Regions from separate parts of the Homo sapiens genome. Here all the other regions are reported to be linked to region 1. The links are microRNA targets in miRTarBase. Many come from high-throughput screens and were not tested one by one. Region 1 holds a microRNA gene; each other region holds the end of a gene's coding sequence.
Evidence for each region. Region 1 holds the annotated microRNA hsa-miR-655-5p (AGAGGUUAUCCGUGUUAUGUUC, at 3,553-3,574, opposite strand). A microRNA usually pairs through its seed, bases 2 to 8, with sites in the 3' UTR of a target mRNA and lowers its output. Matches are read on the target gene's strand: a 7mer-m8 pairs with bases 2 to 8, a 7mer-A1 pairs with bases 2 to 7 and ends in A, and an 8mer does both.

Region 2: miRTarBase lists PTCD3 as a target of hsa-miR-655-5p. Seed matches in the 3' UTR shown: 8mer at 1,845-1,852 and 7mer-A1 at 2,818-2,824.
Region 3: the mRNA of TMEM196 is a reported target of hsa-miR-655-5p. Seed matches in the 3' UTR shown: 7mer-A1 at 1,774-1,780, 7mer-A1 at 1,864-1,870, 7mer-m8 at 2,811-2,817 and 7mer-A1 at 3,231-3,237.
Region 4: miRTarBase lists ARMCX6 as a target of hsa-miR-655-5p. Seed matches in the 3' UTR shown: 7mer-m8 at 2,137-2,143.
Region 5: the mRNA of DSTN is a reported target of hsa-miR-655-5p. Seed matches in the 3' UTR shown: 8mer at 4,528-4,535.
Region 6: miRTarBase lists SEC14L5 as a target of hsa-miR-655-5p. Seed matches in the 3' UTR shown: 7mer-A1 at 1,579-1,585 and 7mer-m8 at 739-745.

The regions. Positions count from the first base shown.
Region 1 is chr14:101,048,548-101,053,145 of GRCh38, reverse strand. MIR655 (microRNA 655) reads right to left here and starts at 3,596; the gene lies at 3,500-3,596. MIR381HG (MIR381 host gene) reads right to left here. Exons shown (of 3, transcript NR_104192.1): 2 at 1,877-2,079; 3 at 1,351-1,544. It overlaps MIR544A (microRNA 544a), which reads right to left and starts at 4,488; the gene lies at 4,398-4,488. It overlaps MIR487A (microRNA 487a), which reads right to left and starts at 700; the gene lies at 621-700.
Region 2 is chr2:86,137,400-86,140,399 of GRCh38, forward strand. It overlaps PTCD3 (pentatricopeptide repeat domain 3), which reads left to right. Exons shown (of 24, transcript NM_017952.6): 24 at 70-3,000. The coding sequence ends at 160. Among named protein-coding and RNA genes, the nearest start is that of SNORD94, 3.0 kb to the left of the region's middle.
Region 3 is chr7:19,718,344-19,723,407 of GRCh38, reverse strand. TMEM196 (transmembrane protein 196) reads left to right here. Exons shown (of 5, transcript NM_001363562.2): 5 at 1,274-4,093. The coding sequence ends at 1,280. LOC107986774 (a long non-coding RNA gene) reads right to left here and starts at 1,390. Exons shown (of 5, transcript XR_001745112.2): 1 at 266-1,390.
Region 4 is chrX:101,612,262-101,617,325 of GRCh38, reverse strand. It overlaps ARMCX6 (armadillo repeat containing X-linked 6), which reads left to right. Exons shown (of 3, transcript NM_019007.4): 3 at 560-2,201. The coding sequence starts at 706. The coding sequence ends at 1,608. Among named protein-coding and RNA genes, the nearest start is that of ARMCX6, 3.2 kb to the left of the region's middle. RefSeq lists an enhancer at 3,155-3,717.
Region 5 is chr20:17,606,939-17,612,002 of GRCh38, reverse strand. It overlaps DSTN (destrin, actin depolymerizing factor), which reads right to left. Exons shown (of 4, transcript NM_006870.4): 4 at 2,084-4,966. The coding sequence ends at 4,857. Among named protein-coding and RNA genes, the nearest start is that of DSTN, 39 kb to the right of the region's middle. RefSeq lists an enhancer at 1-261.
Region 6 is chr16:5,013,757-5,018,820 of GRCh38, reverse strand. SEC14L5 (SEC14 like lipid binding 5) reads right to left here. Exons shown (of 16, transcript NM_014692.2): 16 at 1-3,962. The coding sequence ends at 3,851. Among named protein-coding and RNA genes, the nearest start is that of NAGPA-AS1, 17 kb to the left of the region's middle.

The DNA of each region.
Region 1 (4,598 bases):
ACAAAATCATGGTGGCCAAAGTCACCAACCCTCTCAATAGCCATTATGGCCATGGGCAGGACACAGCTCTGGCAGGAGAGTGAGCTCAGGGAGACGCCTCAGAAACAAAGCTCAGACTGCTCAACTAACTCTCCACAAACTCCAACAGATGTGGATGCCAAGTCTCCCCAGAGGGCGGTGCTGCTTCCAGAAACCCTTCCCTGGCAAGATTTGGCACTCAAAAATTCTGCCCTGGAACAAAAGCAATAATGATGACCAATTACCTATCAGTCAGTCCGGCTGATGACAGTAACACTACCGAGCCAGCATGTCTCCAGAGATTCATCTTACCAAGGGTGAGGGTCACTTGGAGCAGGTGACAGACGTCTTGTGTGAATGGGCCTCTCACTGGTCAACTTCCCCCAATAATGTAGTGCAGACACCAAAGCCCCTTCCAGAAAATCACAGCCTTAGAAGTAACCATCTTCCTCAGAGATTCGATTCTGGTCATGGCTGTGGCACATGAAGAAGCTAGTGCACTGCGATGGCCCGTTCACATACATACCTTGGGTGGGAGGTGAAGCCAAGACCCCTTGCCTGAAGGCGGGACGCTGTCCGGGAAGCCTTCCAAAGCAGTATTTGATACTGAAAAACTGGATGTCCCTGTATGATTCGTCATAAATTAAGCGAACACAGCAGGGATAACCACTCTTCAAGTACCGAAGGCTGACGGTGACGGCCCACGTCTTCACCAGAGTCTGCCTTCCTTCCAGCTAGTCCGCCTGAGGATGAATTGGGGACAGAGGGTTAGGAGAGTTGAGGGGTGCACAATGTCAATCAAGCCCTTGCTTTCCAGCCAACCATGCATTCTTGCCCCTGGAGAGGGACGAAGGGCAACAGCTCCTTCCAGAAAGCTTCCCCAGCAAGATCCATACTCAAAAAAGGCACTCCCTCATGAGACTGGGCATAAAGAAAGCAAACCCGGCAAGGAGAAGGTCCTTTCAAGTGCCAGAAAATAGCATGGCCTAGGAAACCACCACCTTGTCTTCTGAGCTGATGTGGCCTCCAGAAGTCACTGGATAGGTAGGGACTGTGGATCAACTGACATACACCATTTATAAAATGTACGTTCTCTGATCAACCATCCATTCCCCTATCATGGACAGCACCCTGCCTCCAGGTCAGGGTCCTGCCAGGGGACATCTCCGGGGAGTTTGTCCTGAAAAACAGTGGTCCAATATGATAAGCCACAAACCCAGGCGAGGCCCCACGGTCAGCCTCAACCCTGCTCTGCCCCCGAGGCCTCCAGAGCCTGGAGGCCACAGCATGTGAGTCTTACTCCAATGAAGACACAGGCTCTGCCATGGGTCATCCTTACGAGTATTTCACGAGGTGCTGACACCAATGCCTCCTTTAATAATTCCTTGGAATTATATCCAGGAAAGAGGTGATGCTGAGTTGCATTTGCAGCAGAGAAAGCATTGTAGAGGGAACCTGCCATTGACGAGACCTCCCCAGGTGTGTCAGAGGAGTCCCCCTGCCTCCTCTTGTAGGTAGCCTGGATGCTGAGGGTCAAGGACAGAGAAAGCCTGTGACCTGGCTTGATAATCTGTCCTGTGGCCTCTGGCTCTGCAGCACCTCCTGGATCGTGGCCTCGTGCTGATGGCCAGAACCTTTCCCCGGAGTTGCCCTCCCTTCTGGGGGACCCTCATGGGCAGGCTGCATGGATAATGAGAATTAATGACCCATTTAATAGGTATCATCAATTCAGCCCCCTCTCTGCCTGGGACACGGAGTGGGGCTGAGCACCGAAATGGTCTTGCCCAGAAGTCCCCCAAGGACGGGTTGCTTGGGCCATTGAACATTGGGCATCGTCAGCAGACCCTCCCCCAGGTACCTGGTGATGGTGCTGACATAGACCTCCTCTCTGGTGGCGGGACACCTCCACACATTCTCCCACTGTGCAGGAATGAGGCCAACTGTGTGGTCTTTGTCATGAAAAATGCAAGAGCACTCCGGTGGTTCCTCACCAAGCCCCACGCCGCGACACGAGCACATCGGGTCCCCCGGCCAGAGCCTGTATCACTTCTAGGGCTTCTCCTGAGGGTGGAATGAATTCTCTGGGTTAGCTGTGCAGAGAACACATTCGTCAACAAAGTTCATATCCCTGCGTCACCTCTGTGCCCATACCTCAGGCGAAGCTGACAGTTTTCTTACTGTGAAGCCGGCACCTGCAGGCACCCATAAAGAACTGACTCCACACAGGGACCCCAGCGCACTGGCCACCTCAGATAGGACAAAGCCACGGAGGCAGAGAGCAGTGGGGCTTTGCAGCCACTCCAGGATGCTGCCCCACACAGGGACCACATCCTGAAGGGGGCGGGGCTTGGTGCCACTGCCCTCCACTGTGTTAGTCCATTTTCTGGCTGCTGATAAAGACATACCCAAGACTGGGCAATTTGCAAAAGAAAGAGGTTCAATTGGACTTACAGTTCCACGTGGCTGGGTAAGCCTCACAGTCATGGTGGAAAGCAAGGAGAAGCAAGTCAGGTCTTACGTGGATGGCAGCAGGCAAACAGAGACCTTGTGCAGGGAAACTCTGCCTTATAAAACCATCAGCTCTCATGAGACCCATTCACTATCACAAGAACAGCAAGGGAAAGACCCACTCCCCTGATTCAATTACCTCCCACCAGGACCCTCCCACAACACAAAGGAATTCAAAATGAGATTTGAGTGGAGACACAGCCAAACTATATCATCCACCAAACGGGGGATCAAGGACAGCCTCCCTTCTCCATAACCAGGGGACACGCTGGAGTCCGTGTTCTCCTCTCAAACCAGGTGCTGTGTGCAGGAAGCCCTCCAAGGCAGCATCACAGAGCCGAAGATTCATTAGCTGCATGGTCTCCATCGGGAAGGAGTGAAGGGAACCTGGCACCGTGCCAGTGTCTATGAGCACCAAGCAATGGACCAGGAGACCCCACCAGGTCGGCTGGCAGAGGGAAGCTGACCTGAGGAGGAAGTGGCACTGGGCCAGTGACCTGGGTGAGGAGTGGGAACACAGCCCAAGTCGGCCTGCCCTTCACACACCCACAGAGGTGCTGGACTTCATCCAGGGAGCCACCCTGAGAGGAAAACAGGCTGTCCTCAAAGGAGTCCGCATGGAGGAGTTAACCTCTCCTCAAGTGTCCCAGTGGAGTGGTAAACCTTGTCCTTGCCCCCAGGGACCCACCCTGAAAAGCACTGGGTCCAGGAAGGGACCTAGCCCTGTGGCTAAGCCACAGACCCAGCCACTGGGGGAAGGCACAAGTTGGCATTCAAAGAGGAGGGAACCTCACATAACTCGCAAAAACACATCGCATTCACAGCAAACACAGCAAAGCAACCCAGGGCTCTTCCCTCCACCAGCCTCACTTCCAGGAAGCTTCCCTCACGCAGCACGGAGCCGGGGCAGGGGCTCTCAGCTCACACAAGGCACACACTCTCACGTCTCCTGTGGGGGCGGCCCTCCGAGGCAGAGTCTGATATTCAAAAAGAGGTTAACCATGTATTATTCATGATGAATGAAGCGAACATAACACGGATAACCTCTCCTCAAATATCCTTGCATAGTTCTGAAACGAAAACCATGGCCTCTTCCCCACCGTTGTCTTTGCTTCCAGAAGATTCTTCTTGGGATGAGCTGAATCCCAGGGTTGGGGCAGGGAGGTGTTCACATCCTGCAAAGAAAGCACACGTACTGGCATTGACCTTCCATTCCCGTACCTCAGTCTCAGGGCCCAGGCAGCCCTGGCACCAAAGTCAAAACCCTGACATTGGAACCATGCTCAGAAAGACTTCTAAGGCAGGTTCCATTAAAAATATATGAAAGCTTCCTCCACGGATTCCTGAAAGACGGGATTTGATGACGAGAACCAGCAGAATGCATGTCAGAGATAAGCAAAGCCATCATGAAGAATTCTGTTTCCGATAAAATGGGGTGTCACTGATCCCTGAAGACAGGGTCCCTACCGCAGAGATGGTCTCAGTTCCTGGAATTTCCTCCCGATGACTGCTTGGAAACGGAGGGTCACAGAATTCCAGGGCCCAGCACATCAATAATGAATAAGCGTGCCGTTGACCTGCACCCGACAATCTTGCAGCAGCTTGACACCGGCGGCCCCTCCCTGAAGCAGGTCTTGTATCTGGGAAGCCCTTTGAGGCATGATTTGATTTTAAAGAAAAGTAATCTCATGCTATTTACGCATGTGAAAGTGAACCCTTGTTCACAAACCAAAACATGGCACGTTGATTCTGGGCCGTTCTCCCACGATGGACGGTATATGGCATGTGGGGAGACAGGCGACACATATCACAGGGAAAGCACCTGGTCTCCAGCCCCAAACCACTGTGAGTGTTGTCCACAGACCGGCGGTATTAGCATCACTTGAGAACTTGCTAAAAATGCAGAATCTTGGTCCCTGAATCAGAATCTGCTTTTTAACAAGATCCCTAGGTGATGAAAATCTTAGGAGCATTTTTAAAGTTTGAGAAACACTACTCTAGCCAACTATTCATATGCACACGCACACAAACACACACACACACACACACACACCCCAGAGGTGCTGTCGACC
Region 2 (3,000 bases), not on the chromosome of region 1:
TCAGAGACACCGAGAACCCCAGCACCCAGTTGAATTGCAGTGTAATCCTCCATTTTCTTTTCTTAACAGGGAAGCCCTAAGTAATCTAACTGCATTGACCAGTGACAGTGATACTGACAGCAGCAGTGACAGCGACAGTGACACCAGTGAAGGCAAATGAAAGTGGAGATTCAGGAGCAGCAATGGGTCTCACCATAGCTGCTGGAATCACACCTGAGAACTGAGATATACCAATATTTAACATTGTTACAAAGAAGAAAAGATACAGATTTGGTGAATTTGTTACTGTGAGGTACAGTCAGTACACAGCTGACTTATGTAGATTTAAGCTGCTAATATGCTACTTAACCATCTATTAATGCACCATTAAAGGCTTAGCATTTAAGTAGCAACATTGCGGTTTTCAGACACATGGTGAGGTCCATGGCTCTTGTCATCAGGATAAGCCTGCACACCTAGAGTGTCGGTGAGCTGACCTCACGATGCTGTCCTCGTGCGATTGCCCTCTCCTGCTGCTGGACTTCTGCCTTTGTTGGCCTGATGTGCTGCTGTGATGCTGGTCCTTCATCTTAGGTGTTCATGCAGTTCTAACACAGTTGGGGTTGGGTCAATAGTTTCCCAATTTCAGGATATTTCGATGTCAGAAATAACGCATCTTAGGAATGACTAAACAAGATAATGGCAGTTTAGGCTGCACAACTGGTAAAATGACTGTAGATAAATGTTGTAATTAGTGTACACGTTTGTATTTTTGTTAATATAGCCGCTGCCATAGTTTTCTAACTTGAACAGCCATGAATGTTTCATGTCTCCCTTTTTTTTTGTCTATAGCTGTTACCTATTTTAGTGGTTGAAATGAGAGCTAGTGATGACAGAAGGATGTGGAATGTCTTCTTGACATCATTGTGTATTGCTGGTAATCAAGTTGGTAACGACTACTTCTAGCAGCTCTTACCACTATGACTTAAGTGGTCCTGGAAGGCAGTAAGTGGAGGTTTGCAGCATTCCTGCCTTCATGAGGGCTTCTACCACTGACCACTTTGCACGTACCTGGCTCCCAGATTTACTTAGGTACCCCACGAGTTGTCCACATAAGCAGCTTCATCTTTACCTTGCCAGAGTTGACAATTATGGGATACTCTAGTCTACTTATACTTGTGTTCCCATCTGTCTGCCATCCTCTGAAGGCCGGGACCCAGTCATACATCCTTAGAAACCAAAGTATGGTTTTTGTTTTCTCTTGGAATGTCAGGTCTTAAGGCATTTAATTGAGGGACAAAAAAAAAAAAAGCCGATATAGTAGCTAGCTACTTAAGCATCCATGGGTATTGCTCCATATCAAAGCAGATTTGCAGGACAGAGAGAGTAAATTAGCCTTCAGTCTTGGTTTACAGCTTCCAAGGAGAGCCTTGGCCACCTGAAATGTTAACTCGGTCCCTTCCTGTCTCTAGTTCATCAGCACCTGCAGATGCCTGACTCTTGTTAGCCTTACTATTCAATACAGTCCTTAGATTCACGGTATGCCTCTTCCTATCCAGGCACCTATTCTGAATCACCATGTTGCTCTGCAGCTAGAGTTGATAGGAGAAAATCCATTTGGGTAGATGGCCTATGAATTTGTAGTAGACTTTCAAAATGAGTGATTTGTTAGCTTGGTACTTTTAAGTTTGTGGTACAGATCCTCCAAACCCATACTCTGAGCAATTAACTGCCTTGAACATAGAGAAAAATTAAGGCCTCACAGGATGAGTCTCCATTCTCTGTAAATGCTTATTTTATCATAGTCTTTAGCCTCTACTATGAGTAAAATGTTCTCTTCGGCCGGGTGTGGTGACTCACACCTGTAACCTCAGCACTTTGGGAGGCAGAGGTGGGAGGATCACTTAGGTCCAGGAGTTCGAGACTAGCCTGGGCAACATAGTGAGACACCGGATCTACAAAAAAATAAAAAGCCAGACTGGTGGTATGTATCTGTGTCCCAGCTAATTGGGAGGGTGAGTTGGGAGGATTGTTTGAGCCTAGGAGAGGGAGGTTGCAGTGAGCCGTGATTGCACCACTGCACTCCAGCCTGGGCAACAGAGCAAGACCCTGTCTTGGAGAAACCAGAATTTTGGAAGAGCAAATGGGGCTGAGTGCAGTGGCTCATGCCTGTAATCCCAGCACTTAGGGTGCCAATGTGGATTACCTGAGCCCAGGAGTTTGAGACCAGCCTGGGTAACAGTGAGACCCCCCTCCCTACAAAAGATTTTAATAATTAGTTGGGCGTAGTGGTGCATGCCTGTAATCCCAGCTACTCTGGAGACAGGTGGAGGGGATTGCTTGAGCCTGGGAAGCTGAGGCTGCAGTAGCCATGACTGCACCACTGCATTCCAGCCTGGTTGACAGAGTGACCCTTGTCTCCAAGAAAAAAAAAAAGCAAATGGGATTAAGGACTCATGGAATGGGAAGGGGAAGGGGAGTCTTACTATATGTGGAATAAACTTGCTCAGTGTTGCCACAGAGTTACATTACCAATGTGTAGAAGTCAGAAACTAGACTTCTAGTTTGGTTCAACATTTGAGGGTTGTTTTATAGCCATCAAAGTATTCAAGAGGTTGGATGGCACTCAAAAGATTCTACATGTCTAGAATCAAACTCAAATCTGGCACGTAGGTGCTTCTTAGTAAATGCTTAATGAATGCCACCAACTCTGCAAAGTATTCATTGATTTTGAGACCTTAGTCATGTTGCTACTAAAAGTAGGGCATATGACCGCCTAAGAAACAGAACTTCGAGAAGTCCTAACGTAACCACAGTAAAGCAGACTCCCCTTTCAGCAACCTCAAAGCAAAAAAAAAAAAAAAAAAACCAGTTAGCTGCTATATAAACACTATACCAAGCACTAGGCTTAGAGGAAAAGATGTCAGATTGTACTGTCACTGGCTATGTACCCATATTCTCTAAGACAGGGTAGCATTTGTCTTTCAAACTGCAGGGTTTGAAATCAGTTTTTGTGGGTGA
Region 3 (5,064 bases), not on the chromosome of region 1:
TAAGCAGTTTTTGAGTGGAAAGTCATTGTAGAAGGAGAAAAGGCACCTAACGGGTTTATGTAAATTTATTAGAAATTTGATTTTTCTCCTAGTAGGTAAAACAGGAAAAGTAAATTTTGTTGAAGATCATTGGGGGTGGGGGGTGATTCTACCTATTTTGCCATCAATGGTGAGTTCCTCAATGAAGCCTCAAATCAGATTTCTGAGCTATAAACTTAACTCCAGCACATAACCCTAATATATTTTCAGATTTTTCATCACATACCTCTCTAGGAGACTTTCACCATGTACATCTCTAGCAGATTCTCCAAACAGAGCTAGATAGAAATAGATATAGAAATAAAATAATTGAGAAAATAATTTCCACTTCTAATTTTTTTTTTCTGCTCTGTTGCAAATAGGCTTGTTCAAGCATGGAAAGATGCTGCCAATTTATTTTTAGATAATTTTATCAACATAATTTTACTATGGTGCTCTAACCATTAAAATATGAATGGGCTTCATATCCTATCACTTTTTATTGTGTTGGGAAGGGTTTAATATTTAACAAAACATATGAATTAAAAGCATCAAAATTTTTCATAATGTATTTCATATAATTGAAAATGAAACTTTCAATGCTAGTTTGTCCTTTGCATCTATATTTTCAGTGCTTTTCTATATAGTTTTACTTATTAACTTTTTAGTAATTGATCCATTAAAAACATGTTAAGAGACTTCACTGTTTTTGCTTCTTACTGGAAGAGTGATAGTGTCATGAAAAACAATCTTTCCCACTATGATTTTTTAGTGATCCATAGTTACAAATGAGCAATGATGCCCTCGTAGGCCTTTTTCTGTTCTTAGCAAAAAGGCCACACATTTTCCTGTAGAATAAAGGTCACCTCTAGAATGCATTGGCACTTTGTTGACATGCTCAGCAGAGTCTATGCATTAGAAAAACTTGCGCATTTAACCATCTTCTTCTTTCTAGGTGAGGTCTTTCCAAAATTGAGTTGAAGAAAGAAAGAGGAAACTCAGGAAAGTGGGGAGAGAATGGACCGTTGTTGTGGAGAGAATATTTTGGTCTAACTGACTCTTACTTTGGCATTTGCATGTGCTCCAAGATGCCATGAAATTTTATTTCCTCAAATATAACAGCAATATCCTTGTCTTTCCCCAAAACTTAGCAAGTTTTTCAATGGATTGAAATTTCTGTTTTGCAAACTCATTAACCAAAACAATGTCTTACTCCAAAAGCGAATTTTAATTAATCATGTCATTTTTCTAACAGGAAATAACAGACAACATGAGCAATGGAGGACCACAGCTGATATTTAATGGAAGAGTGTAATCAATGTTTTAAAGAATTGAACACTTTTTAGGATTTTCATGAGGCAATGAGACACCAAAGGACTAGAAAATAAAACAGTTTTTGCATTTGCATTTATCTCTCCTGAGCATCCACTAAAATTATTCTTCCTAAAAAATATATTGCCTCACTGGTTTCTCCACCCTTTTTTATGGGGTAAAAAACTTTCCAGAAACATTCTAGTACAATAATTTCAAGAGGCTTTCCAGATTGTTCTAAAGAAGACTTTTCAGGAAAAAGAGATAATAAAACAGAAATAAAATGCATATTCTATACAAACACTATTTGACTAGCATGATTATTATATTTGTAATGACATATTTCATATGAGTAATTGAAAAGTGCAAATATCAAGAAATAAAAATAACTTATTGACGTCTTTGTTCTGAAAGACAGATGGCTTCAAGGATGCTACAATTCAAAACCTCAGTAATGCCTTGTTATAAAAACATTGTAATTATTTTCAACTTGTGAATGAAATATATTTCATAATTTATTTGTAAATGACAAAAAACCTCAAGCATAAAAAAGAGACTTTTTAGAGAGAGAGAATACTAATCTATATGGTATTTTTGCATTTTTGCACAAAGAGTGAAAAGTTATATGTGAATATCATTTAAGAAAATAAACATGTTTTGATCATACTGTGCAGATTGATCTGCATGTTCATGAATGAGCCTAAGAATAAAGTATGTGTGTGAATGTGTGTATACATACTGTAAATATAGAACATGTATACAGCATATATTATAGCATACATGAATGTAAATAGGTATTAGAAAAGAAATTGTGATGCTGTGGGGGTATTATTAAGATTCTACTCCAATAGAAATGGGAAGGCAATTGCTCAAGGCCCTTCTATGCCCACAAAATCACATGTTTAATTTCTACTAAAATTGCCCATTTTTCTTCTTTTAATTAGGTTTTGTGTAAATATCATTGTGGGTGATATTTATGAAGATGAGTGATCTGAATAGTGTAGTATACAGATAGACTACTTATTTGACTATTTCACTATGATTATAGTATTTATGTATAGCAATTAAAATTAATTTATAAACGAACATGACTTTAATGACATACTTCCGTATTTATAAAGATATCATGACTTAAAATTATTGATGATATTGATATTTCAAACACCTTGCAGTCCAGTTAAATGATACAAAAGGGCAGATGATGTAACCCCCCAACAATGAAGTTATAATTACCTTTGCTGTAATCTAATTTAGGTGTTTTGTTTTACGATTCTCATGAAATAATATAGGCAGTCCATATATAAGAAAGCCTATATCCAAAGATCCTGAAAGAATTCTTTGAGGAAAAAGTGAAAAGATAGGCTAACATTTGTATAGCTAGATTCAATCCTTTCCTCTAATAATGGAATGTTAAAATAGCAAACAAGAACAACACATATAAGTGAAAAAACAACATATATCTGAATATATTTATCAGAATATAACCTCTGGCAACAGACAAAGAAATCTATCATTTTTAAATACATAACTCTCACTATATTGTATACTTTTCTTTTTCCTCAAATCTAATCAATTTTCAAGTCATTTTTTATGAGTTACTTGTTGAACCATAGGTAAATTAAAATATTTACTGTTCAGTATGAGAATATAATTTATAAACAAAACATGAGTTTTAATTGTGCTAACACAGTAATGATCATTCAAGTTAATGAAAATTTGAAGGTCTTTTATAGCAACATGATCATCGTTTAACCTATTTAAATCAGCTCACTTAAAATTCTGGCTGTCATCTATTCAACAGAAATAACTGGACTCTGCTTGTTTGGTGCACTTTTTGAAGTCTCCCAATTCCTTTGGATAACTTCATTGCCTAGTAGATTACAGAAGTTGTCCATAAATGCAACCTCATATAGTGAATCAACATCATAACTATTCATTCAATGCCACAAACAGGCATGATCTTTGCCAATGAAAATCTAAATTACATCATGAAGATATTTGTGTGTGTATGGTCCTCCTGAATTCATGCAAGGATGTAGTTTTGTACTGAAAGAATAAACACTGACTCTAATTTTCAGTAGCATTTCTCTATAAACATGCTTGTTCAATACAAAATTATAATACATCAGAAAAATGTTGTAATGCCTTTTGAACTGATCTATAACATAACACATTAAAGGACAAAAGGAGACATATCACTGCTTTGATGTATAGTTAAAAAGAGATGCCATCATCACAATTATTCAAATAGTTTACAGTGTATGTTTAACCAAGTATAGATATATTTTTAAATATGATTATTTCTACCTAGTATTTTCAGAATTGAGTTTAGAATGATTTACTTGGGATGTGCGGCGATTCTTTTTTAGATAAGTGGGGGATGTTAGGAAGACATTGTTCAAGTGCTTGAAACTTTAATTTGGACAATACATTGAACCACATGCTGGAATGTTTTAAGTGACTACCTTATAGTTTTAGTATGAGCCTACCCTTGGAAGAAAGTAAGGTGATACTAAATTAGAAAAACTATGTGAAACTGGAGTGGTGGTATACTTTGGACCATATCAAATAGGTAGAGTATTATAAGCATAAAAGAATAAAATTGGGCTCGCTTTGGAAATTTTAAACATATATGTGTATGTGTGTATATATATGCATATACATACACATATGTGTATATACACACACACAATGGTTTGGAAGTGGAACAGGAAATGATAACTCTACTGACATGTCTATAATAAAATGATGTGCTTTGAAACTATATATGGTGTTGGCTTTCTTTTCATTATAATACAGAAATACCTTCCCCAATAGCTACATGAATAAATATGCTATTCTGAGAGTGGCAAGGGATGGCCTGCTGTGAATGAGGGGAAAGAGACAGTCACAGACGAAGGATACAGAATTAAATAAGAATATTATTTGAGATACAAAAGCTAGAATATGTTCAAGTATAGAGAGAGACTGGTTGAAGCCATCAAACAAAATGATTATAATAAGAATGTGAAGTCCCTGAGGGCAAGAGAAAATAAGACACAGATCATATGAGACAGAATTTACTATGGTAGGACAGAGACTGCAGGTGATGTCACAAATTAAACCACAATATTTAGAGAACCCTGAAGGCCTACTTGAGTTTGTCAAATTGGTTGTTACTGGCATTTGGGCTGAATAATAACTTATTATGCAGACTGTCCCACACATTTCAGGCCATTTAGCATCTCTCATCTCTACCCACTAAATCCCAGGAGGACACTCTTATCATTTTAATAACCAAAAATGTCCTAACAAATGTTTACCTGTTTCTTTGGTAGGGAGATATTAGCCAGTTAAGAATGACTGAGGAAATCCTTTGAACGTAATCCAGAGCAGCCAATTTTAATGCTACCTATAAGTGAAGACTTGAATTGCTCAAGGTCATAAACTCACTGTTCTAAGGTCTACCTACACTGTCTAATATGGTAGCCACTATCCACATGTGACTATTTAAATCTAAATATAAATTAATTAAAACAAAAGAATATTTTTGTTTTTCAGTTTCTCCATCAAACTAGCCATATTCAAAGTGTCAAACAGACATATATGGGCAACAGTTACAGAATATCCCCATCATTTCAGAAAGATCCATTAGATAATGCTAGTCAAAAGCACATAGGAACTTCCCATTTCCTTCAGTCCTTGTACAAGTTCTTGCACAATTAACCAATTATCATTACAATTGAAAATATGAAA
Region 4 (5,064 bases), not on the chromosome of region 1:
GACAAGTGGGGCGGAGGAGGCCTGCGTCCGGAAAGTCAGTAGAGTATGAGAAATATTTTAAACTCAAGTGTCTAAAATTCACAAAAACAGAAATTGGGACCTGTGTCCTCAGTTCATCCACTACACTTTCATTTCTCCATTGCCGCCTACCTGTCTTTGCATTTGTCCTTCTGCCAGACTCTATCCTCTATCACCGTGGAGGGACCACTGACAACAGAAGACAAGGGAAAACGAAGGAATTTATCTGACTTTGGTAGAGGTTAATGAGAGAAACTGCCCTTAATCTTTGGGGGTGGAGGTCTGGTGTAGGAGACTACCTGAGAGGTACTCACACTGTCACCCTCCTAGCTATCATAGCAGAGACCCATCTCCTGCCCTTCCCTGTGGACCCAGGAAGAGAAATGGGGGCTCCTGAGGTCGATAGAGGAAGACAGAAAAGAAAAGAACAAAGAAATTGTATCCTGTTAATCTGCCTTTATCACCAACTCGAAATCCACCCTGTCTGTGAGGCACAAAGCCAAACATAGTCCCGAGCCCTAATACTCTGTTTCACCCACAGATTCATCACAAGAGAGCTACAAGAGCCTGGAAGAAGCTGAAGACTGCTACCCTCCATCCTTACTCACCCTGGACCTGAGAGACCTCTTCAATCAGGTGGAGCAAGGCCCTCTCCTGTCCTGCCCCAAGGCTGGCACAGACTTGAGCATGGGCCGGGCTCGGGAAGTGGGTTGGATGGCGGCAGGACTGATGATTGGGGCTGGTGCCTGCTACTGCGTTTACAAACTGACCATAGGAAGAGATGACAGTGAGAAGCTGGAGGAGGAGGGGGAAGAGGAGTGGGACGATGACCAGGAGCTGGATGAGGAGGAGCCTGATATTTGGTTTGATTTTGAAACTATGGCTCGGCCCTGGACTGAGGATGGGGATTGGACTGAACCTGGGGCCCCAGGTGGCACTGAGGACAGGCCCTCAGGGGGAGGCAAGGCCAACCGAGCACACCCAATAAAACAGCGGCCATTCCCCTATGAACATAAAAATACTTGGAGTGCTCAAAATTGTAAAAATGGCAGTTGTGTTCTGGACCTCTCCAAGTGTCTTTTCATTCAGGGAAAACTGTTGTTTGCCGAGCCCAAGGATGCGGGCTTTCCATTTAGCCAGGATATCAATAGCCATTTGGCCAGCCTCTCAATGGCTAGAAACACGAGCCCCACTCCAGACCCCACTGTTAGAGAGGCTTTGTGTGCCCCGGATAACTTAAATGCGAGTATTGAAAGTCAGGGCCAGATTAAGATGTACATCAATGAAGTGTGTCGGGAGACTGTGTCACGTTGCTGCAACTCATTTCTGCAGCAGGCCGGATTAAATTTGTTAATAAGCATGACAGTTATTAATAACATGCTTGCCAAGTCCGCTTCAGACTTGAAGTTTCCTTTGATATCAGAGGGAAGTGGATGTGCTAAGGTTCAGGTTTTGAAACCGCTGATGGGTTTGTCTGAAAAGCCAGTCTTGGCGGGGGAGTTAGTCGGTGCCCAGATGCTCTTCTCATTCATGTCCCTCTTTATCAGAAATGGAAACAGAGAGATTCTCCTGGAAACCCCTGCCCCATAAACGGCCCTCTCGAACACAATGGGACGGAATCCACCCACAACGCGCTTGGTTTGCAGATGTCAAAGAATCTGCAGAGGGTGCTACTGAAGATCCAGCCTTAGCCAATCACCACCTCATTGGGTGAAAGTTCCAGGGCTCAATCCAGGACCACACTCTTATTGGCCAGGCAGGGGCTCCCACAGAGCTTTGAGTAACTTCTTGGTTGTGCAGTCTGCAGGCAATGTTGGCATTGTAAATTCCTCCCTTGCAGCCTCCTTCATGTGGTGAGGGGATCACTTCAGCTGCCTGCTGTGGACAAAGAACATCAAATTACAGCATCACGAGTGCTATTGTTGCCTGTGGTGGTCTCCCTGTCCAAGCGGGACCGCTTTGCAGAGACCAGAGGCATATCGCGGCTTGAGCTGAAAATGCATTTGTTGCAGCTTAGGTTGAATTATTTTTCGTTTGCTCTTTCTTCTACACGCGCCTGATGGATAGTGAACCTATTCATCAAAAAAGTGCACTGCTCTTCTGTCTATTGTACCGACTTAACCTCTTCCACCCAAGTCCGCATCTGTGTGTATCATCAATAAAGTTGTGTGCTTTGATTGGCAGAAAAGAGTCATGGTCCTTGTCCTTGAGTTTACAGTCTGCACGGAGAGAAGGACAAAAAAAAAAGCACGGTAAACGCCAGCTGACTGGAACGTCTGCTCCGTGACAAATGCAGGCTTATCGGTGCTCACAGGAGGCAGGGATAGAGAGGGGCTGCAGTGCTCAGAATAAACTTCAAGAAGGGGCTGGAGGCGGGGGTGGGGGAAGGGGAGGGGCACAGCGGGGGAGTTCGTGGAATTAGGATGGAATGTTGAGAGGACTGAAAGAGACAACACCCGTGGAGCAGGCAGCACCGTGCCCCGGCACAGAGAAATCCCTTCTTAATGTCTTTTCCTTGACTGCCAGCCTGGAGAGAAAGGTCAGTAACCCTGGCCTTTTCGATTGTCGGCGCATCCCGACGTGGGGATGGGGACCGGGGTGGAACGGGTGGGGGCGCTCTACCACGCATCGGGGCGCATTTATTGCACAATGATGGCGATAAAGGTTGCCGCTTGCCCAGCACCTACCCTGTGTAGTTCTATCCCTCCTGCGAAGCCAGGGGGAAATCTGCTTCCAGCCCTCCTTCTCTCTTCCTTGGGATCCCCAGCGCTACTTCCTGGCAGAGTGAGAGGGTTGGCCGCTGCTCCCTTTGGAGCAACCTCCTTTCTTCCATATCCCCACTACCTGTGGTGGGACCCAGGAAGGGGACAGTGGAGCCCTCCATCAACTACCTGCGGGGGTGATAGGGCAGATGCTGAGGGCACTTGGCACGACCGTGGCCACTCCATCCATCCGGAGACACCTCCACACTCTCCATCTGAGGTGCCTGCACCTTGCCAGGAAAGGAAGAGCCCGTGGGCGCAGAAGCACTCCATGGGTCAGGGCAGCTCGTTCTGCCCCGCCCCCACCTCCAACATTACCAGATCCCGCCCAGCAGGTTTAGCCCCTGAATCAGCAAAGCCAGGTTCCCTGCATGTTTGTGATGTGTCAAGAAGTGGTCCCCTTCCCTAAAGCCATGGCAAACCCAGTAAACACATCTGCTTCCCCTTGGGCAAGGCTGCTGCCGTGCCCGGTGCCCTCTCGGTCTCCCAGGGCTGCTGCTGTGGGTCACTGTGTCCTGGGCAGCTGCGATCTCTGTGGTGCTGGGCATTCTGCTTGTTCTGTTCCACACAGAACAAAGCTTTCTTTTCTTGTCTTATTCTCCCTTCCCCCCGCAGCTTGCCTTCCAGGTGGGTTACAACTTTCCTGCTTGTACCATCTGCCCCACAGTCCATGCTGGCCAGACGGCCTGAGTGCCTGCCGGGTCCCCTGACCAACTCTGGGAAACCCTCCCACCTGGAATGGGGACCAGACCTCTTCCCAGGCCCTGGTGCCTGGGATGGCCAACAAGTGACTTGCAGTTGTTGTGACACCACATCCCCTGTCAAGGCTCACACTGCTGGGGCTTCCTTGGCTGGCTCTGGGAGCCCTGTCCCGGTTCCTAAGGGTTCCTAAGAGCTGTCAGAAGGACCACCCTTTCTCCCAAGCCAGCCGCAGTTTGGCTGGGCAATCTGATTTCAAAGGGGATTTCCCTGCAGACAGCTCCGCATGCACTTTTCCCAGTGGAGCCTGCTTCGCCAATGCTGTCTTTAGTGACACCTCATTGCTCAGTCTCTTTGAGCACAAAGGCATCCTCCTAGCCTGTGGTCCCGAATTAGCATGCACCTCCCTACTTCCCTGCACGCTACCAAGTTTCCCTTTACGTGCGCTTGTCCACCATCGCTGAGGCACTTGACACCGTGAGGCCGCAGCTGAGTCCTAACTCAGGGAGCGCCCCAGAGGCTTTCTGCCCATCTCCTGAGCAAACTCTGTCACAGAAAAGCCCATCAGCGTCCAAGTGTCTCCACGGCGTTGTCTTGGCCCAAGTCAAAACCCTCCTGTCCATTTGCTGGCACTGCCCTCCCGAAAGCACTCACGCACAGCCCTTCTGTCCTGCCCCTCATCCCCTGACTGGTTGCAGTGCCTGGGTACGAGCCCAGTTCCCGTGGATTCTGCCTCCCTGGGATGCGCGGGGGGAGTCGGGAGCATGCCTGCCTCCCAGGGCCTGATCAAGACACTGAGAGGTTCTCAGCACTGGCAAGAGCGCCGGTGCCCCCATTCCATATGTAACGCAAACATAAAAACAGCCCTGAGCCATCAATCACAATGCATACCTGCCTGCTGCAACCAAAAGACAGCCTTTCTGGGCTTCCCCGTGGCAAACATTGGAAAAGGTCATCAATCCTGAGCTTGCCACATTCTGTGAGAAGTGCTCTGCCTTGATGGTGCCGCCCCAGCCTGAGCCCGTCTCTTGTGTCAATCTGGAACTGCCGCCACAGGCTGTCTTCCACCTCCAGAAAGGGCCCTCAGTTTTGCTTCTCATCTATCTTATGAGCACGTTTCCATTTGGTGCCTGTAGGCACTGACTGACTTCCAGACCAACTTCAGGTGCCCTCCCCAGCCTGCTGCCTCTCCTAGGGATTTTGTGGTTTGCCACCCCCACCCCGCCCCCCTCCAGGTGAGTGCACACAAGGTTGCAGACAACCAGCTTCCCGGCAGGCACGTCCTGTCTCAGACACGGGACCCTCACCGGGGTGCTATGTGTCACTCTCAAAGCAGTATCCACCACGATCCCCTTACTTTTAAGTGCCACCCTGGACCAGCATAGCCCTCACCCAGTCCGTCCCTCTGACGATGCACCACTGGGCTAAGAGTTGGGCAGCTGTGGCAAGGGGTTGCTCTTGCCTCTCTTCTGAGGGACACTGGCTGCTCTATGATGCAGATGGGCACTGCACCAGAGTCCAGCAGAGTGCTGCAGAGGGCCGGCCCTTGCCCCGTCTGTTACAGACGCCAGATGTGTCTTCTCAC
Region 5 (5,064 bases), not on the chromosome of region 1:
GAGCCTGGGGAAGAACACCCTGGGCTGAGCGCCCCGCAACAGCCACTGGGCCCCCTGCATCCGCGCCCCATGCATCTGGTACAGGGGGCTGAGTGGGAGCACAGGTTCTGGGTGAGGGAGGCCGCCTGCAGGAGGCAGAACTCTGCACGTGGGTGGCTGTAGGTCAGGTCAGTGGTGTGGGCCCCGGTGAGTGTGGGGAACGGACAGACCTGTGCCAGGGCTGCCACCGAATCGCCCCCTCGACCTGCCACACTGCGAGACTGAGCGCTCCATGCTGGGCTGATCCCCTCTGAAGGCACAGGAATGGGGCAGGGGTACCCATTTTGAGCAGCGGAAAGGGGAGACCTTGGGGAAAGAGACAAGGGATGCTGGGGTGCCACGCTGCCGCCTCTGGGTTGTGAGGGGCAGTGGCCTCCTCCTGGACTCTGGCTAAAAGCCTGCTCCTTCAGGCCACCTGCTGGGAGCCCCAGGTCTGTGCATGCAGAAGGGAGGAAGCCGAAGGCAGGTAGCACAGGGTGTAGGACTCCTGTGCGGCTGGCCTGGGAGTTCAGGAAAATGCCACTTGGGAGCTTTTCTCCTGCAGCTCGTTCTAAGGGCCCATCATCTGTTGTCCCCGCCTGCCCCAGCAGGGCCAGAGCAGTCCTCAGGCCCGGCAGTGGTACCTCCCAGGTGGGCAGAGGGAGCCTGAGTCTGCCAGGCCACCGGCTGGGCCCTGCCTCAGGTGGGCCGGGCCTCCTCAACTGTCCCAGGCCAGGTTCCATGTCAGGCTCCAGGGAAGCCAGCTGAGGCGCAGCCCTCGCAAACTTCCTGCGGAAGGGGCTAGCAGCACCCCCCCAGCCCCACAGCATTCCCCAGCGTGGCACAGGTCACTGGCCTGGCCATTCGCAGCCCTGTCCTGCAGCTGTAGCCGAGCTCAGGCAGCACCAGAGGACTGGCTTGTGCTGTTCTTGGAATGAAGTTCACCGTGGAGGCAGGACTCACCCAGCTGCTGCCCGACAGAGGAACCACTGCTCCTCCCTGGCCCAGCTTCACAAAGCCAGACCCTGGGTTTGGGCCGCTGGGTGAAGATGGATCAGAGCCCACAGAGTAGATGTGAAGTTCCAGGTTAACATGGCCCATAGACAGCACAACAAGACCTGAAGCCCCTCACAGACAGCTGCGCCCTGACCAGCTTCCTCAGGTGTCTCCATGTGATATTCTGGAACACACAGGCACCACGATGCTGCGCCTGCAGGCCACACCTACGGAAGCGGTGCAGTGAAGGCAGGAAGCCAGCGAGGCCTGAGGGACAGGTGCGGGGAAAGCGAGGTTTTGTTCTAGAAGCCACTCCACGCCCTCCACAGATGCCATCACTACACTTCCTTCAGGGCTGGGTCTGATGAGAGCTCAGAGTGCAAAAGAAATGCTTTCCTTCTTGGCCCTTTCAAATCTCACCCCAGCACTGAACAAGGTCTAACCTTTGAATTTCAGATGTTAGAAATGTGGAAAGATGATCCAATTATAATAAGAGGAATGAAGTGAATTCTCCTGAGGTGGTGGAAATAGCTCAGGAACAGAAACCAAGAGATCTGAGTTTTTGTCCCAGTTCTGCCACTTGTGAGTCGATTAACCTTAGGCAAGTTAATTCACCTCTGGGCTGGTTACTGAGGGTACTGGCCAGAGGCTCCATAAGTCCCTTCCCCAGTGCCCTTTTGGGACTGTGCAGAACCCAGAGAGCCCTCAGTAACAAAACGGTACTCAAGCCTGCCTTCCACTGAAACCCTGGCTCCTGGAATACTCCCCTCACCAGCCATAATGCCATTACTGTCCCTTCCAGCTGCAGTCCAGCTGGAACCCAGTCTAGAGCCCGTTCTCAATTTCAGAAATGCCCCAAATCACGAAGAAGTGATGCGTGTTGGGCATATTCAGTCTCTGGTGGTCCGAAGGGCAATTATAGTCAAGAAACAAGTTGCACTTGCTGTGCCTGCGGCAGCCGGTACTCTGCAGAAAGGAAACCACCAAACCAAACCTATTATCCAAGTCACTGTGTCCACTGTTTTTGCAGAGTAATATTATCTGAGATAACTTCACAGTCAAGCTCTGATTGAATTGTTAGCAATGGCTTTATTTGCTGCTTTGTCAGGGCAAGAGAGTAACCGCTAGATGAGACTAAGTCAGCTTTCCACAAACATATTTTTGCAGTGTGTTAGCATTTGTGAAGAGGTAAACGTATTTTCTGGAAACAGAGTATACTTGCAGTTTTGTTCCTGACCAACAGTAGACCAATCAGCTGAGGTCTGAACCCTAATTATGTACCAGAATCGCCTTGAGTGCTTGTTAGCACAATTCTTGGGCCTCAGGAATCCACTGAGACTTTCTCAAAAGTTCCCCTAGAGACTAACTACTAGCATTTTATTCAATTTCTGGAGTGAGTTCTGGATGCTTACATCACATCCCTTTGTACTGTTTGAAATCCTTCCCACAGAAGACACCTCACACACGCACAACAGTGCCACACTTAAGCCAACACCACAGGAAAAATCTCCTTCTAAAACTCCTTGACCAAATATCTTGCTTTACCTACATGGCTGACTTTTGAGTACGGCAGTCTTGGGCTTATGGCACTTCCCTGGAGGCCTGTTAATCACAATCACTAGCAGGACACAGTGGCTCACACCTGTAATCACAGCACTTTAGGAGGCCAAGGCAGGAGGCTTGCTGGAGCCCAAGAGTTCAAGGATGCAGTGAGTTATGATTGCACCACTGCACTCTAGCCTGGGGGAAAGAGTGAGACCCTGTCTCAAAAAACAAAACCCACACTAAAAGCATTGCTACAAAGTAAAGAAACAAGCAATTCAGGATGAATGACAAGCAGCCAGCACTATTTTCTAGACAATTCCAAAATATTTTGATTAAAGCATAATCTTGTCTCACAAACACCTGGCATGTGGATCAACATTAAAATGTTCCCCACCCTAGACTGCACTTAAACCTAGTGGCATAGCCTACTACACACCTAGGCTGTATGGTAGAGCCTATTACTCCTAGACCACAAACCTGGACAGCACGTTACTATACTGAATACTGTCGGCAACTGTAACACAATGGTATTTGTGTATCTAATTACAGTAGAAAATACATTATAATTGTATGGGACCACCATAGTATATGCAGTCTTTGACATGTAATAATGCACAGCTGTGTATCAAAATGCTAACCATGTGATGGCATGTGGTAGGACAATGTATAATTTCCCTTTTCTCTATTTTCTAAATTTTAAATGTGAATTTATAATTTTGTATAATATTTATTACACTTATAGTGTAATAAACATTGAAAACGTTCCCAACTTTTACACCAACTTTCTTATTCACCAGAGGGAGTTGTGACTTTTTTTTTTTTTTTTGAGACAAGGTCTTGCTCTGTCATCCAGGCTGGAGTACAGTGGCACGATCTCAGCTCACCTCCTGGGCTCAAGTGATCCTCCCACCTCAGCATCCAAAGTAGCTGGGACTACTGACGTGCACCACCACACCCGGCTAATTTTGTTTATTTTTAGTAGATGAGATCCCACTATGTTGCCCACGCTGATTGTCAAACTCCTGGCCTCAAACTATCCTCTTGCCTCGGCCTCCCAAAATGCTGGGATTACAGGAGTGAGCCACCACACTCAGCCAACCTTAACTCTTAATTATTGGAAATACCCAAACCTCAATGCCTTACCCCATATGGAAGGCAAAATCCTGTATTCCCAATTCACACATGAAAATTACACGAGAGGTAAGTCAAAAATGCTTCCTTTATTACATAAAGCCAATACTGCTACTTCTAAGTTCAACTGTTTGTGCATCTCTATATCGTTCAAAGTGTTACGCCCGTGATATTAACAATGACCGCTTCCAAGTGTCAGTGAACAGTGGCTCCCTGTGAGTGTCATCATGGTACCTCTCCCCATTGCACACAAGTCAACAAACTGCTCTAGAAAGTTAAGTTCTCCCAGGCCCAGAGTAAACATATACTCAATATTCTTCCATACTTTATTATACCATAAGAAGCAAACTTCTGAAGGAGATACAATTAAAGATACCACAGGTGTCCTAGCTTGTCAATATTCTGTTTTATCATTTTCATTAACAAAGCAGATTACAATGTAGCCCTAATTTGCATTATAATTAGTTGTTACAAGACACTGCACATTCTCCTGAAGACACACAATGATTTCCAAGATGCCAGGTCACTCTTCCAATCAGTGAATGGCGAGCTCACTGGCAGGTGCAGGGCTACTTCCTGTATTCCAATGATGTGCCTGAAATAGCGCTTTGCAAGATGAGCGTGGATTATGTGGACACAATTTTGAGGCAATCTCCATTACACATTTGGTAGAAGACTGCCTAACTTAATCTTACTATTAGTGTATTAGTGTTGTTATATTATGAAGACATATTATATTCCATTATTCTGCTTAGCTCAAGGAAGAATAAAGAATTTGGACCAAAATTATAACCAGATTATGAGCAATTTCCTAAGCAAAAGAAACAAAGTAAATGCTGAGGTTAATAAAGATGTAATAATTCTCTTCACATGGCCTTTACTGTTTGTGAACTGTGTAATTTAAAATCCTGAGCTTAACAAAAATCTTTATAAATCAACTCATCAAAACAGGCATTTGGCCAATAAGAATTTAATTTCACATCAATAAAACTTTAGACTTTAGATTTATTTAGGGCTGTTTGCATATGTTTATAGAATAGTTTACTCTAAAAGATGACAAGACAGCTCCCCCTCAGTGAGACCCTGGCCTAAATATATTTGCTTTATTTATATAGCAAGAGGATAACATTAAACATGGAAGCTTTCAATTTGTGGCACTGAATAATCTACACAGGGCATCCTTCAAAGGCTACAATTAAGGATCCACCTAACTTTTCAGCAATACAAGCCCGATTGAGATCTTCTGGTCCATTTGCTTGACATTCATGTTTTATGCCTAGAGAGAAAAAACAACACTTCTATTTACAATTATGGCAGCAGTTTACCTCTTTCTCTAAGATAACCAAACTTTTAAAAGACCAGTTCTAATCTGGA
Region 6 (5,064 bases), not on the chromosome of region 1:
CCAGAGAGTGCAGGGTAGAAAAAAAGAGTCTCAAACTCTCCATACTTCAACCTCTGGGAAAAAACATTTTCTAACTGCCAAGGGAAATACCACTCAGAATACACTCCCTCAGATGGGTGGACTTACCCAGAAAACACAAGCAGCTTCTTTCTTCTTTTTTTGAGACAGGGTCTTGCTTTGTCACCCAGGATGAAGTACAGGGGTGAGATCATGGCTCACTCCAGCCTTGACCTCCAAGCAATCCTTCTGCCTCAGCCTCCCGAGCAGCTGAGACTATAGGCACGCACCACCACGCCTGGCTCATTTTTTAATTTTTTGTAGAGACAGGGTCTCACTATGTTGCCCAGGCTGGTCTTGAACTCCTGCACTCAAGCGATCAGCCGGCCTCAGCCTCCCAAAGTGTTGGGATTATAGGCATGAGCCACCACGCCCCGCCCACACAAGCAGTTTCTAAAAGAGAAAGACTGCACACCCAACTCAGAGGGCAATAATTCTTGACACCTACTTTTCTCTGGGTGCAATAACGAAAAACAGGGATAGGCGACCTCAGGAAGAAAACGAGTCTTTGGATGCGAAGCATTAAGTAATCAGAATGACCACTGACATTAATGGAGCGCTTTCTGTGTTCTGGGAGCTGTGCTGAAAGCTTTACAGCTACTCCCTCATTTCGTCCCACTACAACCTATTGAGGTAGGCACTGCTATCCTCACTTTACAGATGAGGAAACTGAGGCACAGAGAGGTTAAGTCACCTGGTCAAGGTTACACAGCTAGTGAAAGGAAGGCTGGGGTTTGAGTCCTGGCCTAAATTCAAGGCCCAGGTGCCCAAACACCAACAGTAATGCTGCTTGTGGGTTGCTTCTGTCCTGGTCACAATGGATTAATGAACTAATGATGCAAGAAGCCCAAGCCAAGGCACTTCCAGCCTTTGTGGCTCAGGGGAAATTCAAAAGCCAAAAGCTTGGCAATCCCTTCCTTGGATTATTTTTAATTCCAGTCCTCCCGAAGGCAAGAAGAATGACCTTGATAATGCTTCCACGTGGGTCCCCGAGACCTCCACATGGGAGGAGAGCCGGCCGTAGCAGATGCCACCATGGATACCTGCTGGTTCTGTGGTCCAGCTTCTCTTGTCCATTGGGGGAATGGCCCTCCCCAATCCTGCTGCGGCTTCTGCAGGGAATGTCAATCACGGGACCCTAGTTCCTTGCCAGTGTGGCCCACAGGAATAAGCATGTGACTCGAGCTGGGCCAATCAGAGCCTTCCATGAGATTTGAGATGGAAAAGCATCTCTTAGAGTGTGAATCCTGAAATTATAGGCTTGGGGCTGCTGGCAGCCATCTTTCCCGCCAGGTGGAAGAAAGAATGAGGTCAGCATGCAAAGAGATGCAGAGTCAAGAGGCCTGGGTGCAGTTGAGAGGCCTGAGGACATTAAGCTCCTGGATCCAGCCATATCTGAAGCAGCACCCACCTTCAGCCATCCCTAGTACAGGACCCAGGGAATTTGCTTTGTTGCTTAAGCCAGTTTGGGCTGGTTTTCCCTAGGGAGAGAGCACTCTCAAGAGCAGAACTGAAAGGGCCTGAGGTTCCTCACCCCCACTGTTAAGGGTGGACAGCTGATAGCAGACTCCCCTCCCCCCACCCGCCTCTGGAACAGGCAGTTCCAGCTTCCTTCCGTAAAAGGCTTCTGTGTCCTTCTCTGGGGCTAGACAATAAATGTATAAAGACTGCCAGGGCAGCTTATCCCAGCATACTTGTAGGATAACACCTAGTTTTTAAGAGAAAAGCTAGAAATTCACTTAAAGATAGTTGAAAATATTGCAAGTTGCTCTCAGCAATAAATGCCTGGTGATATGGGAGCAATTAGTTTTGAGAACGTCTCCTTCCAATCAGTCGGTCTCTTATGCACACATGTGCACACACACCTTGACGCAGAGTGCAAAGCAATCTATTTTGTTCAGATACCTGAGAAGCGGACAGAGAGCCAACAGGAAGGTGGGCAAGGCTCTCTCCCAGCAGGAAGAAGGATGTATCTGAAAAGATGACACTTTCTCTCTTCCTTGGGTTTGGGGTTGAGGCTGGCGTAGATATAAGTTTCCTGGCCCTGCATTGCTGAGCCTGCATAAAGATGATTCTTGTGGCCACAAAACCACCCCTTGGCTCAGTTACTGCAGCAGAGATGAGCCCCAACTCTAAGCAAGGCCAGGAGACAAGGGTACCAGCCACTGCTGACAGAGCCATGTCAGTGAGACTCCTGCCACGCAGGTCATGAGGATGTGTAATGTGGGCTGGGCGCAAGTCAATGGGGTAGGGACTGGCGTGGCCACATCCAGGGGTGCAGAGGTGTTGTCTTCATGCAACAATAGTGACCCCATTCTGCTGGTGCTCCCAAATGCCTAAGGGAAGCCAGAAATCCTGATTTCGATGCGAAATGCCTCAATTTTTAAACCATTCTAAAGGCAAAAAAGCAACACTAAAAGCAGGCCAGATCAGGCTTCAAGTTGGTGACCCCTGACTGGCTGCCTTTTGGGGAGTCCAGGAAAGGAAAGGAGAAATGTCCTCAGGCCCCAAGGAGACCCAAGACGCTCCTGTGTAGTAACTAGGGGAACTCATGTCAATATTGAACCTAGTTCCAGAGTCATATCTGCCCCAGGGCAAACACAGCAGCCTCCACTCGCGGGGGGAATCGAGACTCCATGTTGAGACCCTGGATCTAGCCTTACCTGAAGCAAGCCCTCCTGGACTGGCCAGTTCTATGCACCCATGAATGATCATGCTTTTGTGTTGAAGCACCTGGGCATGGGTCTCTGTGGCTTACAACCAAAAACAGTCATAATTAAACAGTTCCCTAGGAGAGAAAGGCATCTCCAGTGGGGTATACAGACAGCCTCAGTCACCCCATCACTGCCTGGAACTTAGCAGAAACCCAGGGCTCTCCCACCCTCTCCAATCAGGGATGGTCAGGCTTAGGCCATGCTGGCCAAGTGCAGGGAACATGGATTTTCACTTCAGGATGTGCTGTTCCCCACAAAGAGCAGCGCCTGTAACTCACTTAACTGCTCACCAAGCACATCTTGATACTGCATAACAGAACGTTATGCAATCAGATGCCAAGGTAAACACCCTTCATTTCTGCCTCCCCAGCATCCTTCCTCCTTCTTCTTAGGGGGGACCCCAGTACTCCTCGAGGCACCCACTAGTGCTTTTGAGAGCAGGTGGTTGGTTCCAGAGATGTGCATGTGATCCAGGCTGGCCAATCACTGCACCTCACTGCAACCCTGGATCACGGTGATTGGTCCAGATTGGGCATGACCCTGCTGGCCAATCAGCATTCTCCAGTGTGCCTGGCAACTGTGATTGGTTCAGGAATTGACCTGGCAATCGCTCCCCCTTCCAGGCTAAGACTCAGCTCTGGGAAGTGGGCTGGAGCCTTTGGGAGGAAGAGGCTCTCTTATGCAGGCAAGCTGCAGGGAGGAGAAGGGCACCTGATAGTGATGGTCCCCTGCATGGCGAAAGCAGAGCAAGAGGTGGACAGAGAGGAGATGGGCCTGGCTGACGTCGCTAAGCCCGGATGTCCCAAAGGTGTGGTATGGTAGACACCTTGGCCTTGGCTTGGTCTTCCTTACACGAAGCCGGAAGGAGATGGTTCTGTCCTTGCAATTTCAAGAGCCCTGACACCACCCACAGGCCAGTTCTGGATCCTTGCCATCCGCTCCAGACACCCCAACTTGGGCAGCATCTAGGCCTGGGGCTCCAGCCCACATGGTCCCAGGCCCTGCAGTTAGCTGGCTTCTCATTCTGGACATTTCTGGACACTGGAGGCGAGCGGGCGGCCCTGAAACACTGGGCCCGGCTATCTGGAGACCAGGGAGCTGCTATGAGACTGGCCGGAGGAGGAGGACGAGGTGGCGGCGCTGAGCTGGGAGAAGCCGCTGGTGCAGGATTCCAGGCTGGACATGGAGCCCCTGGGGAGGAAGGGCGTGGCACACGTTACCCTCTCACAGTGACAAGGCCCTTGGGCTGACACACAGCAGTGGAAAAGCTGTTGATGCTGCAAATCAGGCCCCAGGGCCCCAGGCCGATGCAAAGGGAAAAGCAAGTGACGCCATGAAGAGAAAAGCACTACCGAATTCCCCACACTCCCATCTCCCCAGATGGAGCCCAGCCTGCCACAGACCCATCAGGGGCTCCCCTGGCCTGAGGCCCTTGCATGGCCCTAAGGCCGCCACAGCCCAGGGAGTCCCCGGCCCTGTCTCCAGTCTCACTCCCTCCTTACTCTTTGCACTCAAATTCCATGGTCCTCCTCCTAGCTCTTGCAGTGGCCTTCGTGTGCGCTGAGCCTGAGGCAGAAGCCCATTCTCTCCTCCCCCAGCTGTCTGGTTAACTCCTACTCCAAACCTCAGGGCAGCGCCATCCTCGAGAACTTTCTTTTCTTGTATAGAGACGGGGCTCTCACTATGCTGCCCAGGCTGGTCTCAAACTCCTGGGATCAGGAGATCCTCGTGACTCGGCCTCCCAAAGCACTTGGATTACAGGCGTGAGGCACCATGCCCACCCTCCAAGAACTTCCTGCGATGAACGTGCTGTACACCTGCACAGTCCAACACACCAGCCACTGGCCACATGGGCTGCTCATCACTTGAAATGTGGCCCATGCGACTGAGGCACTGAATTGTTCCTTTTATTTCATTCTCCTTGCTAAGTTAAATTGCTGCAGGTGACTAGCAGCGACCAGATAGGACAGTGCAGCTTTAGGGCCTTGCTACTCAAAGCATGGTCTGGGAACTGGCAGCACCAGCAGTGCCCGGAGCTTGTTAGAGATGCAGAACCTCGCCAGGTGCCATGGCTTACGCCTGTCATCCCAACACTTTGAAAGGCTGAGGCAGGGGGATCGCTTGAGGCCAGGAGTTTGAGACCAGCCTGGGCAAAATAGTGAGACCCCATCTCTACAAAAAATTTTAAAAGTGGCCAGGCACAGTGGCTCATGCCTGTAATCCCAGCCCTTTGGGAGGCCGAAGTGGGTGGATTGCTTGAGGCCAGGAGTTCGACACCAGCCTGGCTAACATG